2 separate regions of the Homo sapiens genome follow, and region 2 is linked to region 1. A link means that fine-mapping ties the variant in region 1 to the expression of a gene that starts in the linked region. Tissue or cell type: blood mononuclear cells. Region 1 holds a variant in brackets; the other region holds the start of a gene. All regions are shown on one strand. Distances are from middle to middle. Region 1 overlaps SMYD2 (SET and MYND domain containing 2). Region 2 holds the start of SMYD2 (SET and MYND domain containing 2).

Region 1 (8,336 bases):
CGGCTTGATTTCCTGTACAGCTCTGACTTCTGCCAGGGTCCCTTTGTAGGTCACAATGACATTGGGGCAACAGCTATGATTCATCAATGCAACACTGTCAGTCAGAAGAGAAAACCCAGTTTTTAAAATGAGATAGGCAGACTGTTTAGCTTCCTTCACTACTTACTTGCTAAGTCAGAGGAACTGAATCTTTGCAAGACATTTTTTAAAAATCTAATAGTTGGCTATCACATTCTAAGAGGTTGTTCTGCATGCACTGATAATCCTATCTACCATCTCACACTTTCACCATATTAAAAACTGAAATCCACAATTCAAGTACTATCTAAGCCAAAACCAAAAAACACACAACAGCAAAAACAACAAATGCCACAAATATTCCTCCCTGATAGAATGCAGCTCTCAGAACCCAATACCCACAGCTAATTGCTACTTCACTATACACTGTCAAACACAGGTGCGTTGTCGCTTTCAAGCAGCTTTTTGTATTAGTGGATTATTTCTCACGTTTTTTTCAGATGTTGAGAAATGCCAGCTTCCTAAGGGAGGAAGGGTGTGTGATCCCCTGAGAGACCCGGAGACACCCGTCTGAGTTTCTCTGCACCTCAATTTCCTCATCTGGAAAATTGGGACATTACTGCTCCTGCTGCTCACTGTCTGCTTTTCAGGGACAGCGAGAAGGAGAGAGAGAGATTCGCCTATGCGAGGTGCTTTGAGCTTTCTGATTATATGAAGGTCAAAGTTCTGAGAACAGAAATTTCTAAACTACAGGGAAAAAGTGCTTGATCTCTGAAAATGCTGCCTTTGAAATCACAATGCTGATATGATTTCAGCCCAAAGGGATTTTTTCCCCCAATTAAAACTGCCCAGAAACTGGGGCTCATGCTCCTACGGGCACTCACAGCCATGTGTGTCATTGCTCTGGTGGCCAATGTCACCTCCCTGACCCTCCAGAGACCACAGCCCCTCTCCTGCTTGCTCCGAGAATACAAAAAGGGAAAGGGGTTTCGAAGCCTGATGAGGATGAACTGCCCCAGGCTGGCTATGGCCTATGGCCAAGTGCACTCCCCCACCTCCTGGCTGCTAAAGGCCTAAGCAAAGTATGTGGTTAGCCTGGTGCCTGAGATAAACAGGTAGCAGCTTCCTGGTCTTGACCTCGGGGAGGGCCACCTCTGCACTGCACCAAGGCCCACTTGGCTTCCTGGAAAGTGATGCCCAAGGAATCAGGTCCTAGGAAATCAAATAAACAAATGCATCGAAGGGTAGTTGTATTAAAATAAAAGCACATTTCTAAAACCATCTTGCGGAAGTATTAAATAGCTGAAGGCAGACTCGGGTATCTCTTTAATGAAGGTGGGGGAAATGCACTAAGTCAAAGACCCTAAAACAATTCATGTTCTTGGTATCATAATTCTGTTGGCAACCACTGACAGGTGAGAATCCTCAAAGCACCTCACTCTTTTTTTTTTTTTTTTTTTGAGATGGAGTCTCGGTTTGTTGTCCAGGCTGGAGTGCAGTGGCGCGATCTCAGCTCACTGCAACCTCCACCTCCCGGGTTCAAGTGATTCTGCTGCCTCAGCCTCCTGAGTAGCTGGGATTACAGGTGTGCGCCACCATGCCCAGCTAATTTTTGTATTTTTAGTAGAGACGGGGTTTCACCATGTTGGTCAGGCTGGTCTCCAACTCCTGACCTCGTGATCTGCCCGCTTCGGCCTCCCAAAGTGCTGGGATTATAGGTGTGAGCCACCACACCTGTAAGGCGTGCCCGGCAGCACCTTACTCTTAATCTTTTAGTCTTTTAAGATATTAAGAACAGAGACATTCCATAGTTCATTTCAGTTATAAAGGTGTCAATACACGCCTTCTTCAGTGGGTCCAATGCCCTCTTTTTCTCCTGCCTTTTCCCAGGGGCCAAAGTTAAAAAAAAAAAAAAAAAAAAAAAGCTTCTTTCCTCACTTCCAGAATTCCAACTGCAGATGATGCCATTTTGGCCCCAAGGACAAATATTACATGAACAAACTTTTTAGTCTCTCTGGTTCAAGTAAACCTGTGACAGCTGCTCACGAGACACAGACTGTACGGATTCTTCTCTTTCTGACCTACACAACGCACAGCGTCTGGCAGAGACGCACATAGCTAAGGGCAGGCACATCACTCAGGGCAAATGCATGAGTATTAAGGGTTTCCTACCTATGTGGCAACCTACAGGCAAAGGCCCCTGCAGTATATGTTAAGCAACCTCCCTCTGGATAGAACTTATCTACAATGTGGATTAATTTGGAGGCTGGGGGGATGCATGATGAATTCCTTGGCTCTATCTGTGAAGCAAGGGTTTGATTTCAGGGACTGAAGCATTTTGGAAATACTCACTCCATGAGACAGACAAAGGCAAAATCATTCTTGGCAATCCATTAAAGTCAGATCTATAAAGATCTCCATTTGTCAACTGGCTAGCCTTTGCTGAATTACTCAAGTATTCTTCAAATCCAGAGAAAATCCTACAGTTCTTTGAAATTTTTATCCGGCCCACTACTTCAGCATATTCTCCCTCCAAATTGTGCTGTTTCTGTACTGGTATTTATCAAAAAGGACAGATGGAGAAGAAGCTCATATAGTCTGTACTCAAGCTTGTGGCCAATTCTTGGTTGGCAATTAATGTTTCACTTTGAGCATAAGAAATGGAAAGATTTCCAGAACCACAGATAGGCAGAAAGCAAATTTCTCAGCAGGGCATGAGCTGTTCCTTCTATGCGCGCTATAAAATATTCTTTAATAACAGCTCTCTGCCTAGCAGGACTTAACAAGCAACTGTTCTCTTAACTACTACCTTTGGATCCTTAAGTGTAGGGGAAATATTTTGAAATCTGGCAGATTAAAAAGCTGTTTTAATTCACTTTGAGTTTCATGTCTGCCACATGCAGTTAGGTGGGTTATTTAAAAATGAAAAAAAAATCAAATTAGTGTTAAGTAAGTAAAAAGGAAAGAAATGAAGTCAAACACAGCCTACTCAGGAAATATCGCTGATCCCAAATGAGAAAGTTCTTCATCTTCAATTGTGAAGCCATTACAGTTAACCTGCAGCAAGAAAAAGGGAGAAAGGAAAAAAATGAGCTGGAGCTTCTTTCTGGGTAGAGATCATTTTTTTAAATTTTGACTTTTAACAAATTAGGAAGATGTTTTGGTGTAGTGGTTTTAAACCCTTTCTTTTGCCCATGTTATCGTTCAAACAAAATTTACTTATCAGTTCCATGCATAAACAAACAAGCAGAATTGTGATGCATCCCTTAGTGTAGCCTACCTACCATCTAAATACAGTGGTCCAGGCACGCCAAAGACCCCCAAGACTCTGAGGACTGACGTTTGCACACTTGCATGGGAGTTAAGATACCTGGAGTCTAATCTCAATTCTGCTACAGCTTTGTTGTATGATCTTAAGCCTATCACTGAATCACTGTGTCTTTAAAGAAAAGAATCAATCTGGCTGGGCGTGGTAGCTCACGCCTGTAATCTCAGCACTTTAGGAAGCTGAGGCGGGCAGATCACCTGAGGTCGGGAGTTCGAAACCAGCCTGACCAACATGGAGAAACCCCATCTCTACTAAAAAAAAATACAAATACAAAATTATCCAGGCGTGGTGGCGCATGCCTGTAATCCCAGCTACTTGGGAGGCTGAGGCAGGAGAATCATTTGAACCCAGGAGGCGGAGGCTGCAGTAAGCCAAGATTGTGCCATTGCACTCCAGCCTGGGCAACAACAGCGAAACTCTGTCTCAAAAAAAAGGAATCAATCCAATGCTCATCTCATAAGGTGAGGTGGTAAATATGAAGCCCTTATTCATCTAATCTAACTGCTATCCCTCTCTCTGTTAGGGAGGCAGAGGGATTGAGGGCTTAAAGCTAAGGCACTGAGACCTTGCCTTTCAAGTCTCAGCCAAATCACCTACAGGCCACCTTCTCACCCTTTAAAAGAAACGTTGTA[C/T]GGGCCCGCTGGCTCACGCCTGTAATCCCAGCACTTTGGGAGTCCAAGGTGGGCAGATCACCTGAGGTCAGGAGTTCAAGACCAGTCTGGCCAACATGGTAAAACCCTGTCTCTACTAAAAATACAAAAATTAGCTGGATCTGGTGGCATGCACCTGTAATCCCAGCTGTTCCATCTACTCGGGAGGCTGAGGCAGGAAGATCACTTGAACCTGGGAGGTGGAGGTTGCAGTAAGCCGAGATTACACCACTGCACTCCAGCCTGGACGACAGTGTGAGACTCCATCTCAAAAAAAAAGAAATGTTGCATAGAAAAATACCAAGGGCAACTTTCACCATTCTGGAAGCCTAACTTAGAACAAGCAGGCTGAAAATGAGGACTATACATGCCTAACTTATGTACTGTTCTATAAACTCATTCTTTCCACAGATATGTACTGGGAGCCCTTACATGCTGGGCACCATGCACAGAAAAACAAACAGAAAGACAAACAGGCTGAAAATTTGTGGCCTCAAAGAAAATCAGACTATTAGGAGACAATTCGGTAGGTGATCTTCATGTCTCTAAAATTTCAGCACTGGAAGAAAACTAAGACTCTACTTTTTAGAGGACGAAACTGAAGTCAGAGAGGAACAATGATTTGTCCACAGTCACAAAGATACTTGGTGACAAAGGCTGAGACCCCTGCTTGTCCCACGCTGCTATGAAGTCTCTGTCCGTGAGGCACTCACACTGAACGATTCCACCCCACTCTCTTCTGCACTTGGGGACACTGCACTGTTACAATTCAGGCCAACAGATGGGCTTTGTAAAACTAGCATCCTCTGAGCACTCACTCTGGGCCAGGCACTGTGCTAGGTACTTCAGATTTACCATCCCATAAATCCGCAATATCACTATAGCATTACTACAGCAACTCATTTTACAGATGTGAAAATTGAGGCTCAGGAAGGTTCAATGATTAAGTGACTTGCTCAAGGATATGTAAATGATAAGTGGCAGAACAGGAGCCAGAATTCAGACTAGGCATTCTGAACAGCAACTCTGGTTTCTTCACACTATACCATGTTCCTTCTAAAATTGGTCAGATCTACTAAATGCTAATGTGGTTATTTTGCTTAACATTAAAGGGCCAAACGCAGGGGCTTGAAAATCTTGGTATACAAAGCAATAAGAGCTATATGATGGGTTTGACTTGCAGTATTTACAATTCAACACAAAAAGCAGAAAATGGGAGGGTACTGTGGATTAGTAAAATAATACATAGGCTTTAAAATCCTGAGGGGTTGGGCATGTGTAAGTAGAAGACTTGGCATATTATTTTTTGTGCCAACTCTAAGTACCCTGACCAATTCTGTCACACAGACATTGACTAACAACCATTAACCAATGACCATCAACCAACATTAGGTAAGAGTAAATTAAAGTTTTCATTCATTCAACAAAATTACCGGAGCATGACCTGTATCCGGTATTATACTGGGTTCTAAATGATCTATGTATCATCTCAGACTGAGTACTACCACGCCTCAGCAGTTTCTGGTACAAATGTTTTCAGAATGAAACAATGAATCAGAAAAATTTGCAACACTTTTCAAAACTGATCTAGGGACAGACAGCTTCTGACTACTTTGGGGATGAGATTCTTGTTTCTCTGCTTTTTCAGTCCCTCCTCTGCAGCAAGCCCACTTAGACCAGTCAGACTCGATCACTTTATGACCATCAGTCCCTTTATTCCCTTCCCGGCTCCTCTTACTGTGGAAGACTGCTTGTGTTTCTTCAAGAGCTAAGGCTCCCATGAGCCTAAGAGTCATTACTGTTCCTTTTGTGATGGTGTTTAAGCCTACTTACATAGCAATTTTCCTGCCAGCTTTCCTTCCCTTCTGAAATATCCCTAGAGAAGAAAAGTGAACTTGCATGTTAAGAAACATGCATGGTCCACAGTCTTTTTTCTGAAGTCAAATCAGGTGTAAGAACCTTGCAAAAGCTATTCTCATAATTAGCATTTAGACTAGATGTAGGCTGCACACCAAAAATACACTTCCCAATCATGCATATGTTCCCAGTGATTAGAACACACCTCGATGCTGTCAAAGATGTGTGGTCACCTTCTGCTGCCAGCTGCTGCCAGGTCTCGAGGTAACCCACAACAGCCTCCCATGGACCAGACGGTGGAAAGGGCTCAGGGGCTGGAACAGCAGACACGTAGCTGCTGGCTGAGAGGTGGGACCGGTGGCATGTGGCTGCAGCAGCACTTTGCATTTCTGCTTTGGAGTTTTCTTTGGGGATAGTAAATGTCCCCTTTCAAATTTACATATGAAAAAATTATATGTGTGTGTATTTGTGTGAACACAAATAATCTCAAAATGTATACTTATTTGTATTCACATGTAATCTCAAAATGTATACTTATTTGATAAAGTCAATAAAGGAATTAATTCTCTATAGTTACGTGTATGTGTGTATGCATATGTGTGTGTATATATATATACATTTTTTAAGGTATATAAATGTTCTGAATTTTCTGAGTCAGTCCATATTTCAAAGAGTCAGTCACTTTCACCACAAATATACTTCTACTTGTGAGATGGAGTCACTTGATTTTTGGTTATGAAAATATGGTCCTGTAACTACGGCATCAACATTGAGAAGTCCTATAAGCATGCATCACTGTGTTAGAGGAAAAGCTATCTTTTTCCATAGCCAGAAAAGTAGATACTTTATGTTTATTTCATCTCTCTGCTTTCTCATATATAAACTAATCCAGAAAAAATTATGTATTCATTTTTTCAGAAAATGTAAGAGAAGTTGATTCCTCACTTCCCATTGTCAGCCAAATCTATTGTCTCAGGATACTTAGGTAAGTACAATTTAAACCCAGGATAATATGAAAATTAGAAAGGTCTTTTATTCCTTCTACCTTAACACTCAAAACTTGAAGCCACCTTTTCACCTACAAGGAATCGCATATTTTTCTGATTATGACAGTCACATAACTGAAATATATCTAAATAAAGTTTATAAAAGAATTCAATAAATTGTTAATAGTTGTTCACAGTTGGGGGGAAGCTGAAGTGGGCAGAAGTGATGAATGACTCACTTTTTTTCTTTATAGACAGGGTCTCTCTCTGTTGCCTAGGCTGAAGTGCAGTGGTTTGATCACAGCTTACTGCAGCCTCGAACTCTTGGGCTCAAGTGATCCTCCTACCTCAGCCTCCTGAGTAGCTGGGACTACAGACACACGCCATGGTGCCTGGCCACTTTCTTTATGTGTGTAATTTTTAAAGTGTGTGCTTTTTGCCTTTTTCTCCTTCTTAGCATGCTTTTTGTAAGTTATACATGCTCACTGTAGAAAATCCAGAAAGTCACCCAGTAAAAAGCCTAAATTTTTCCACAACTCGGAAGACAACTGTGAACTTCCACTTAATCTTTACGTTATGTATGTGTGTTTTCGTATTATACCCTTTTTTCATACTTTTCATACTGCTTTGATACTTAATGTTATGTCATCAGCATTTCCCAAGTTTAGACAGTCGTGAAACGTAACTTATAAAGGTTATGTAACCTTCCATCACATGGAGATGCCATAATTTATGTAACCAAACTCCCACTACTGGCCATTTATAGTATTTCCTTTTCCTCTTTCCTTTTCTTCTTCCCTTCCTCCTCTCCTTTCCTCCTTCCTTCTTTCTTTTCTGCCTTTGGCTTTTAAAAGAATCCTACAATAAACAATTTGTACGTAAATCTCTGTCCATGATTTCTGATTATATCCTTAGGACAGATTCCTGCAAACAGAGTTACTGGGCAAAGGGTACATTAGGTAATGCTTATTCTATTCTAAGACAAAACCATGGAGGTGTCCACTTCATCTCTTTTACACATCCGGAGACTGATGTAGCTTCTTGCTCCCATGGAGCAGAATTCTAATATTTCTCTACCTGGGAAGGTCACTTTAAACTAGATGCCCAGTTTGTAGAGGGCATCGCAAAGGCATATGAGAGAGAAATCCAATCTAGTAAGTCAGGCCAGGAAGAGCCACCCTCACGATAACAGGAAGGTTGTGTGTTCCCCGAGGCATGGCCACTGCACCCTTTGTTCTCTCGTCCTAACAATGCCCAAGGCTTGCCTTGCCAGTGGCCTAGTTTCCAAAGCTGTAATCACTTTCAAATTGCTCTTGCTTAGAAGCCTAAGATTTCCTTAGATCTGATTTTGGTAAACCTAGACTTCTCTAAACAAGATTTCTTAGCCACCATCAGGAAAGACTTCCACATCTAGACCCACTTGGGCTCCTCTCGGCAGTGACTGTCCTTCCTCGGGCCATCACAAAGGGCCCTCCTATCAGTGCAGCCTTGGTTAGA
Region 2 (8,336 bases), 42 kb after region 1:
TACCACCTATTTTATAAAAATACATCTAAAAAAGAAGGGGAACCCCTTTATTAGAGCATGTATTCAATTTTTTTATTCAGAAAACATGATGATTTAAATACATCTGAAGCCATTTCTCCCCCAAAACAACTCTCAAAGCATTCTCAGGAGAGCCAGAGTCATAGCAGTCCTGGGCACAAGGTCCCCTTCTCATGCACAGCTTCAGGCAGCCAGAACCAGGGCTAGTTCAGAGAACTTCAGGAAAACAGCATCAGGATTTCATGGCCCTTAATACTGATTAAGATCAACTAAAAATTATTCTGCCGGTTTGATAAAACAAGAGGAAAGCTAAGATGAATACGCTAGAGAATAAATCTGGGGGACATGAGGAAAAAAAGCCTTTATAACTGCTGAAATAGGACACCTTAATCACAGGGTTTGGCTCAGGCAAACAATTTAATTTTTAAAACAACTAATCTAAGCCAGACATGACCGAAATTCACTGAAACTGGGTTCTAACAGCTCTATTCCAAGGAGGCTAAATGGGCTTTCCTGGTTCCCCCTACACTCAGAACAAACAAAGAAATGTCAATAATCTCATCCTTAAATAACCCATGAGCCAAGAGAACTAAAGATCAAAAGGGAGACTAAAGATCAAAAGATCTGCCTACCTGAAGAATGGCACATAGAATGAATATTTAGATGGAACACTGGGTTAAAGCAGATTTCTCTCCTTCTGAGACAAATCACATTGGGGGTTAAAATATGTCTAGGCCAGGCACGGTGGCTCACGCCTGTAATCCTAGCACTTTGAGAGGCTGAGGTGGGTGGATCACTTGAGGTCAGGAGTTCGAGACCAGCCTGGCCAACATGATGAAACCCTGTCTCTACTAAAAATACAAAAATTAGTCGGAAATCACTTGAACCCGGGAGGCGGAGGTTGCAGTGAGCCAAGATCGTGCCACTGCACTCCAGCCTGGGCAACAGAGTGAGACGAGACTGTTTCAAAAAAAAAAAAAAGTCTAAAACTTAGTTTAAAATACAACATACTTGGCCCGGCGCAGTGGCTCATGCCTGTAATCCCAGCACTTTGGGAGGCCGGGAGTTTGAGACCAGCCTGACCAACATGGAGAAACCCTGTCTCTACTAAAAATACAAAATTAGCCAGGTGTGGTGACGCATTCCTGTAATCCCAGCTACTCGGGAGGCTGAGGCAGAGGAATTGCTTGAACCGGGGAGGTGGAGGTTGTGGTGAGCTGAGATCACGCCACTGCACTCCAGCCTGGGCAACAAGAGCGAAACTCTGTCTCAAAAAAAAAAAAAAAAAAAAAAACCACACCAAAAAATGGTGATAAATGGCCAAAATGTGTATGTGTGCATTTATGTGTGTATGTGTGTATAAAGTGTATCTGAGAAGTCTGATAGGGACAGCTTCCAAGTGGAAAAACTTTATATAATATTATTAGGAGCTGCCTTCTAGCAGTTCAGGCAAGATACGCATGTTCTCCAATGGCACCCACCAGACTGAGAAATGTGATACAAATTAAAAATTCCCCAAAGCAAACCTTTGTCTGAATTGCCCTGACCGTAAGAATCCCATTCTGTTGAGACTTAAGACATTTTCCATTATTTCTCAATTTATAGCATATACTTATTCCTACCTAAAGAAATCACTTTTCTTTTCTTCAAAAAAAGTTAGATCCTGATACAATTAGTATGACATGGAAATTCTTGGGTCATTCATTTATCTTAAGCAGTATTGTTTATGTTAAACTTCTGGCAAAAGAAAGGATAAGGGGTAGCTTTCTTTTGGGTGTGTGGAGCTGGGGCAGGCAGCAGATTTTGACCTGTAAGTATGAACATTTCCAGAATTCTACTCCTATACTTTGAGGCCCTATGGAGGAAAATACACGTTCCCCTCATACATCTGGACAGACTGATTTGTCCTAAGTCATATACAAATTGCTGACAGAGGAACTGATGCTGAATCTATCAGATGACCTAACCACTAATAGTAAATGATTCAGATTTAATAGAAATCATGAAGTAGGGTACAAGGATATTTCTAATTGCATAAGTATCATGGATATTATTTCTTTTGTATTATTTTAATTGACTTCAAATAATTCTTTGGGGAGAGAGAGGAAATAAACTACGGGTATTGACATAAGGTCAGGGAAATCAAACAGAGAAGTGGTTTGCAAGTTGTAATAACACCCCATTGCAAGTTGCAGCCCTGGTGAGGGACCCAAGGCAACAGTGAGTAACACTAATAAATGTCAATCAGAAAAATTTAACAACAAAAGAGGCAGCAAACTGTCACATATGGCAGAATAATCCAGGCTGAATGCTTTGTGAACTTGCATCTGACCATCCATTAATGTTCTAAGGTTGGGGGTATGCGTAGTAGATACAATTAGGAGACTTAAAGCTAAAGAGAAGCATCTCTCAGTTCTTCTCATCCCTTCTAAATCCAGAGGGATTTGATCTTTCATTCACTGGGGGCCAGGGCTGGCAACTACCCATATAAAGTAAGCACCTACTATGTGCCTGGCATCCATGGTCTTAGGCGATGGCTTCCAGGAATTGCCAGGATCCCTGATGGAGGCTCCTTCTGTGCTGCCTGACCTGCTTTGCTCCTGCCACTGCAGACACCCACGCTGCTGCAGACTCCGAGCCACAGCAAGGCTCAGAAGATCAAGGGACCAGTCACAGCAGCCTTTTTAACTTTGGGAAAACCCAATGCTCACTTCACTCAAACGTTGCAAAGTGGTGCCATGACCCTTTAGCTCTTGGCTCACCAATTCAAAGAGCCACATCACATACAGCCCTTAAGCTGCCCACGGCATGATTCCGTGTCTAGTTCCTTTCCAGGTCCCCCCAAGCGGAAGACAGTTCTGGCAGGGAGTCTGGGCAAGATTACTACAATATTTAGCCTTTGTCCCTTCTTTTGCTACGTCTTATTGTAGAATGAGGCACACAGGTCTGAGAGATTGAGTATGCTGGACTTGAGACCTGTACTCAAAAGGTCCCTGCAGGACCGCAGGTCAGCTTAATCCAGCCCAGGAATCTCCATTTCAAAGATGAAGAAACTGAGGTTCAAAGAAAGCAAATCATGGTCTCTACTCAGAGTACTGGAAGGCCTGATATAAACTTAACCCCAATGCCATGCCTCCTGCCTTAGTAAATTTACTGAGCACCTAACCAGTGAGAAATAGGCAGAAGTGAATAAGGCCAGATTTCACTCCCTTCACTACTGGTGTGAATGGATAAAGGTAACTCCACTTTCTCTCTGGGCTTTAGTTTTCTCATCCATTAAGTGAAAGACAAGACTGAATTGGTGATTTCTAATGTGCCTTTAAGCTCTGAAACTCTCATAAGAGTTGAGGATATAATTATGTGTTGGTGTGTGCAAATGTATATGCATCATATATACAAACACAGACACATATATACATATGGTATCTTACAATTAAATACCATTAGCAACCACACATCTTGCCCAATCCCTTCCTGCGACCATGTTTTCCTAATCCCAAACCGAAACTGGACACTGCAACTCATCGTCGCAGCACCTCAGAATCCAGGGGGTGTGGTCAGTGCCCACTGGCGTCCCTCCAAACACCCATGTAAGCGTACTTTAACATGTAAGCGTACTTTACAAGACATATACTAAGTCATTAAATTCCTTGGAAGAAACGGCCAATCTGAGGCAGGGCTGGACTGTGGGTAACAGAACACACCGCAGGAAGCATAAGTTAAAGGTGACAGCCCGTGGCTGCCCAAATTTGGGGCTCCGCTGCCAATGCACCGGGAGGGCAGTGAGTGCCCAGGCTTGGAACAAGCCTGGCTCGGAGCCCACATTTGAGGGCAGGAACCTGCACGCCCGGGTTTGCGCATCCAGCGTGAGCAACTCTGAAAACGTGCAGTGCAGGGCGTGCAGCGGGGCACCGGTCCTGTTTCCTCTCGCACGTGGCGCCTGGCGTGGGGCTGCAGCGCGGGGCCGCAGCGCGGGGCCTCCTCCCCTCCCCGCCCCCCACCCCGCCCCAAGGGCCGGCGCTAGGACCCCGCGAGCCGCACGCACTTCCTGGCGCCGCCGTCCAAGCCTCCCGCTCGGCGCCCCCGGCTCCCGCCCGCCGCCGCCGCCGCCGCCGCCCTACCTGGTGAAGCAGTACTCGCAGTGGTTGCCCCGCTCGTTGACCGTGAGCACGTAGGCATAGGCCGGGCAGGAGAACAGCAAGTCCCCCACCTGGAAGGGCTGCAGAGCCCGCAGCCCCCGGCCTTTGCCCGGGCTGCAGAAGCGCTCCAGGCCGCCGAGGCCCTCGGCCCTCATGGTGGCGGCGGGGCGCGGCCGCCGGCTGTGCCCGAGCTGCGGCTCCCGGCGAGCTGTTATTGGAGACGCGTCACCTAGAGCTGCGGGGGGCGGGGTGGGAGCCGCCCGGCGGACGCGGCGGCGGCTCCCCGCTCCCCGGAAGGGAGGGCGGCCCCGCCCGGGCCTCGCGCGCCCCCGCGGGGAGGGGGACGGGCCCGGCGGCCCCGCCTAGCGCCGCGACCCTCGGCGGCCGCCCCGCGCGCGCTCCGGGCCGTTTCCGGTGTGGCCGCGACAAAGAGCCGCAGCCCCTGTGGCTTCTGCGAGGAGGCGTGAGGCGTGTGCGCCTCCGCGGCGTCTCCACGGAGCGAGCGGGACGCGCCCTCCTCCTCGGTGGGAGGGAGGGGGGTCACCTGCGGGGACCAGGTATCCGAGGGCCACCCCTAGACAGTCAGCCTGGCCCGAAGGATGACCAGCCCCCGGTAAATAGAAGGGGGCGAAGCCAGCTCCGAAACCTTACGTTCGCTGTCCCTTGTAAAGACCCTAGAGGCAGTGATCGGGGAACGCCAAGGAGAAAGCGGCAGAGGGGAAACCACAGTAGAGAAGTTTGGTGTGCAGAGGGTTGAAGTGTGCTTTTCCAAGGTTAGAGGTTTTTAAACCTTGTGGCTTTAATGGGAACGTAGTTTGCCCTCTGCTCCTCTAGTGGAATTACATGGACGGAAGAGGAAATGCATTGGCCGGCCCAGCTCACCGAGTCTCTGAGGCATGCTGCGAACGTTGCAGAGGAAGCCAGAGAGAACCTTGCCTTCAAGGAATTTAGGCTGTTGGGGGATAATGCGATGCTGTGGCCAGTGTCCAGGACACTGCGCTAGAGTTTGCAGTAGTTTTAATATGCTTGACCACCCACGAACTGTGATCTTAGAAAAGTCACTTGGGTTAGGAGTCAAAGGATTTAAAGCCCACAAAGCCTGAAACGTAAATCCTATACACATGCACGCTATTACTTTTCATATGAGAAAGGAAAATATAATCCGTGTTCCACATGATTATGTAAAGACTGGAATTGATGTACATGCAGTAAAGACTAAAATTGTGACGAGATCATTTAGCAGAAACCACTACTTCAAAATAGGACCTCAAACAGTTACCTGTGTAAGTTCAGGACTGGTTGAGCAAAGGGAAAGGATTAATATGATTGGAGATGTAAAATCAGTGGAATTTTTGGCATTTCAGTAAAATGTCTTTATCAGCTGGGTGTGGTGGCTCAGCCCTGTAATCCCAACACTGTGGGAGGCCAAGGTGGGAGGATCATTTGAGCCCAGGAATTGGAGAGTTGGAGACCAGCTTGGGCAACATAAAGACCCCGTCTCTATGGGAAATTAACCACCTCTCAAGTGGTGCTGAGGTGGGAGGATAGCTTGAGCCTGGGAAGTCAAGGTTGCAGTGAGCTGTGGTGACTCCATTATACTCCAGCCTGGGTGACAGAGCAGGACCTTGTCTCAAAAGAAAACAAAAAAGCCCTTATTAGTGGCAAACTAAATAAGCCTCTAACCCGTCTTCAAGTAAAGGAAGTTATGATAGTATTTTCATTTATGCATTTTAAGAAACTTCGACTGACTATGGCCAGCAACTGGGATAGAAAGATGGACATCAGCCGGCTGTGGTGGCTCACGCCTGTAATCCCAGCACTTTGGGAGGCCGAGGTAGGCGGATCACCTGAGGTCGAGAGTTCAAGACCAGCCTGACCAACATGGAGAAACCTCATCTCTACTAAAAATACAAAATTAGCCAGGTGTGGTGGTGCATGCCTGTAATCCCAGCTACTCGGGAGGCTGAGGCAGGAGAATCGCTTGAACCTGGGAGGTGGAGGTTGCTGTGAGCCAAAATCGCACCATTGCACTCCAGCCTGCGCAAGAAGAGCGAAACTCTGTCTCAAAAAAAAAAAAAAAAAAAAAGTGGACAAAATGTAGTCCTAGGTCCTTGCATTTGGCACATTCAAGTTTGATAATACCATTAGTTATTGAGTATTGTTGACCAGGCATCGTGCTCCATCATTAAACACATTATCTGGTTTATCTTTACAACAGGCTAATGAGTTAGGTATTATGCCCCTCATTGCCAAAATTAGGAAGGAAACTAAGACCCAGAAGGAATGATTTTCAAGGCCACACAATAAATTGCAGAATTTGGTTTCCAAGTCAGTCTGAATTCAAGGTCCATGTTCCTAACCACAGTGTTTTGCTGCAAACAAACACAGTTCACTGGGATAAGTGCAGTTATGGTGGCTTGTACAAAATGTTCTGTGGTAGTACAGGCAGGGAGTGACAGCTTTAGCCTGCTAAACAGTCAAGACAGGCATCACATTCAAGTAACGTTAGAGCTGAGCCTGAAGGATGGACAGGATTTTGCAAGTGGAGGTGGGGAGAAGAGTTTTCTGGGCAGAGAGAACTGCGTACAAAGACAGAAGACCCTGAAAGCACAGAGCTTGTAGTTGGGGGCCCCTGAGCATCTGGAAGAGAGGACAGGAAATGAGGCAGGAACAGCTGAAGAGCATCTTCTCCAGAGGTGAGTTCTGCCCCAGAGGCCATGGGAGAGCCAGTTAAAGCGTTTAAGTGAGGGGTGGCACATTGAGTCCAGTGTTTTAGACTGATCTGCCAGCAGCATTGTGGGTTGGCTGGGGTGCCAACATTCAGCACTTCATAACTGTTTACATGTATATAAACAGCCTTGGCATGTGAGACCACTGACAGTTTGCATTTGTCTGTGTGATGACCTGATTAGTGTTTACATCCTCCACCAGACTGTACAAGCTCCATGAGGGCAGGGAATGAGTCTGTTTTTGTTACCCTTACATCACCAGCTCTTATCACTACTCCTGGAACACAGAGAGAATGGAAAAAATATTTAAAGGTTGAATAAACGTCATGGAATCTCATTCTGATTTCTGGGGGCTCTAACCAGCAAAAAGATGAAAAGACTGACGTAGAAGTAAACAATTACAATACAGTAGACAGTTTACTGTTTCAATGATTAATTGTGCAAAGTAATCTACCTGTTTACTTTTTTTATTGCAAGTAACTTTTTCCACTTTAATTGGGAAAGATTTCCACAGCTGAGAAAAAAGCAATTACATAGCTACCGAATTATCTTTCCAGATGAGTGCTGGCTTATTCTTGAGGGTGGAGGTGACTGTGATTTGAGAACACTGGAAAAGAAACCGCCTCATTTCAGAAAAATCCCTGTGATGAACTTAAATGACTCGAGATGGGGAAATGGTCACTGAAGCAGTAGCCATGAATTTAGGAGCTTAAATTACTAAGAAAACTGTGTTTAAAATAAACAGCCAAAGAATGGCAATAAACCAGCCCGGGGAGACTGATGACAGCGCTCTTCATGAAGCCCATACTTGTCACTCTGCCACTCTGTAATCTCACATTCCGTGAAGTCTTTGAGCAGCCAGGACCCATCCACTTTTCCTACGCCCTCTGCTCCATAACGTAGGAGGTATGGAATTTGAAAGGAGTGTTTTTGGTTACTTTGCCTCACTGAAACTCAGGAGAAGTGGTACAAGGACGAAAACTCCTTTGCTTAATTTCTCTAACCTAGAAGTTGATCTAATTTATGAGTAAAAGATCCTTCCAACCACAGATTAGCACATGAAAGAAATAGCTCTGGCCTAGGGAAATGAAGCCTTAGCAAAGAAGGTATCCCAGTGAACGTGAGCAAAGGGCCTAGATGCTGTATAGTTCTGCATCTATGTCTACATGTCACTTATTGAGGACATACTATGTACTTACACTGTGATAGATCCTAGTCATACCAAGGTGTAAAGACCAACATACATGAAAACAGTTATGAAGTGCTGAATGTTGGCACTCATAGATATTAGGTTCCAATCCCTGGAATCTATAAATGGCTTCAAAGGGTCTTGCAAATGTGTTTTAAGGATCTTGAGAGAGTGAGAGTATCCTGGAACATCCAGGTGGGTTCTCTGTGCAGTTGCAAGTTTTCTGATGAAGGACAGAAGGAAATTTGACACAGACAGGAG

Evidence for each region.
Region 2: SMYD2 starts here. The variant in region 1 is fine-mapped to the expression of SMYD2 in blood mononuclear cells (TOPMed, PIP above 0.99). The same link has a PIP of 0.9 or more in whole blood.

What each region holds. Positions count from the first base shown.
Region 1 is chr1:214,319,380-214,327,715 of GRCh38, reverse strand. It overlaps SMYD2 (SET and MYND domain containing 2), which reads right to left. Exons shown (of 12, transcript NM_020197.3): 6 at 3,008-3,075; 7 at 1-94. Among named protein-coding and RNA genes, the nearest start is that of SMYD2, 42 kb to the right of the region's middle. The variant C/T (reference allele first, on the strand shown) is at 3,979.
Region 2 is chr1:214,277,231-214,285,566 of GRCh38, reverse strand. SMYD2 (SET and MYND domain containing 2) reads right to left here and starts at 4,408. Exons shown (of 12, transcript NM_020197.3): 1 at 4,140-4,408. The coding sequence starts at 4,312. LOC124904509 (a long non-coding RNA gene) reads left to right here and starts at 4,531. Exons shown (of 2, transcript XR_007066876.1): 1 at 4,531-6,853. RefSeq lists silencers at 3,989-4,148, 4,179-4,298, 4,319-4,608 and an enhancer at 4,888-5,453.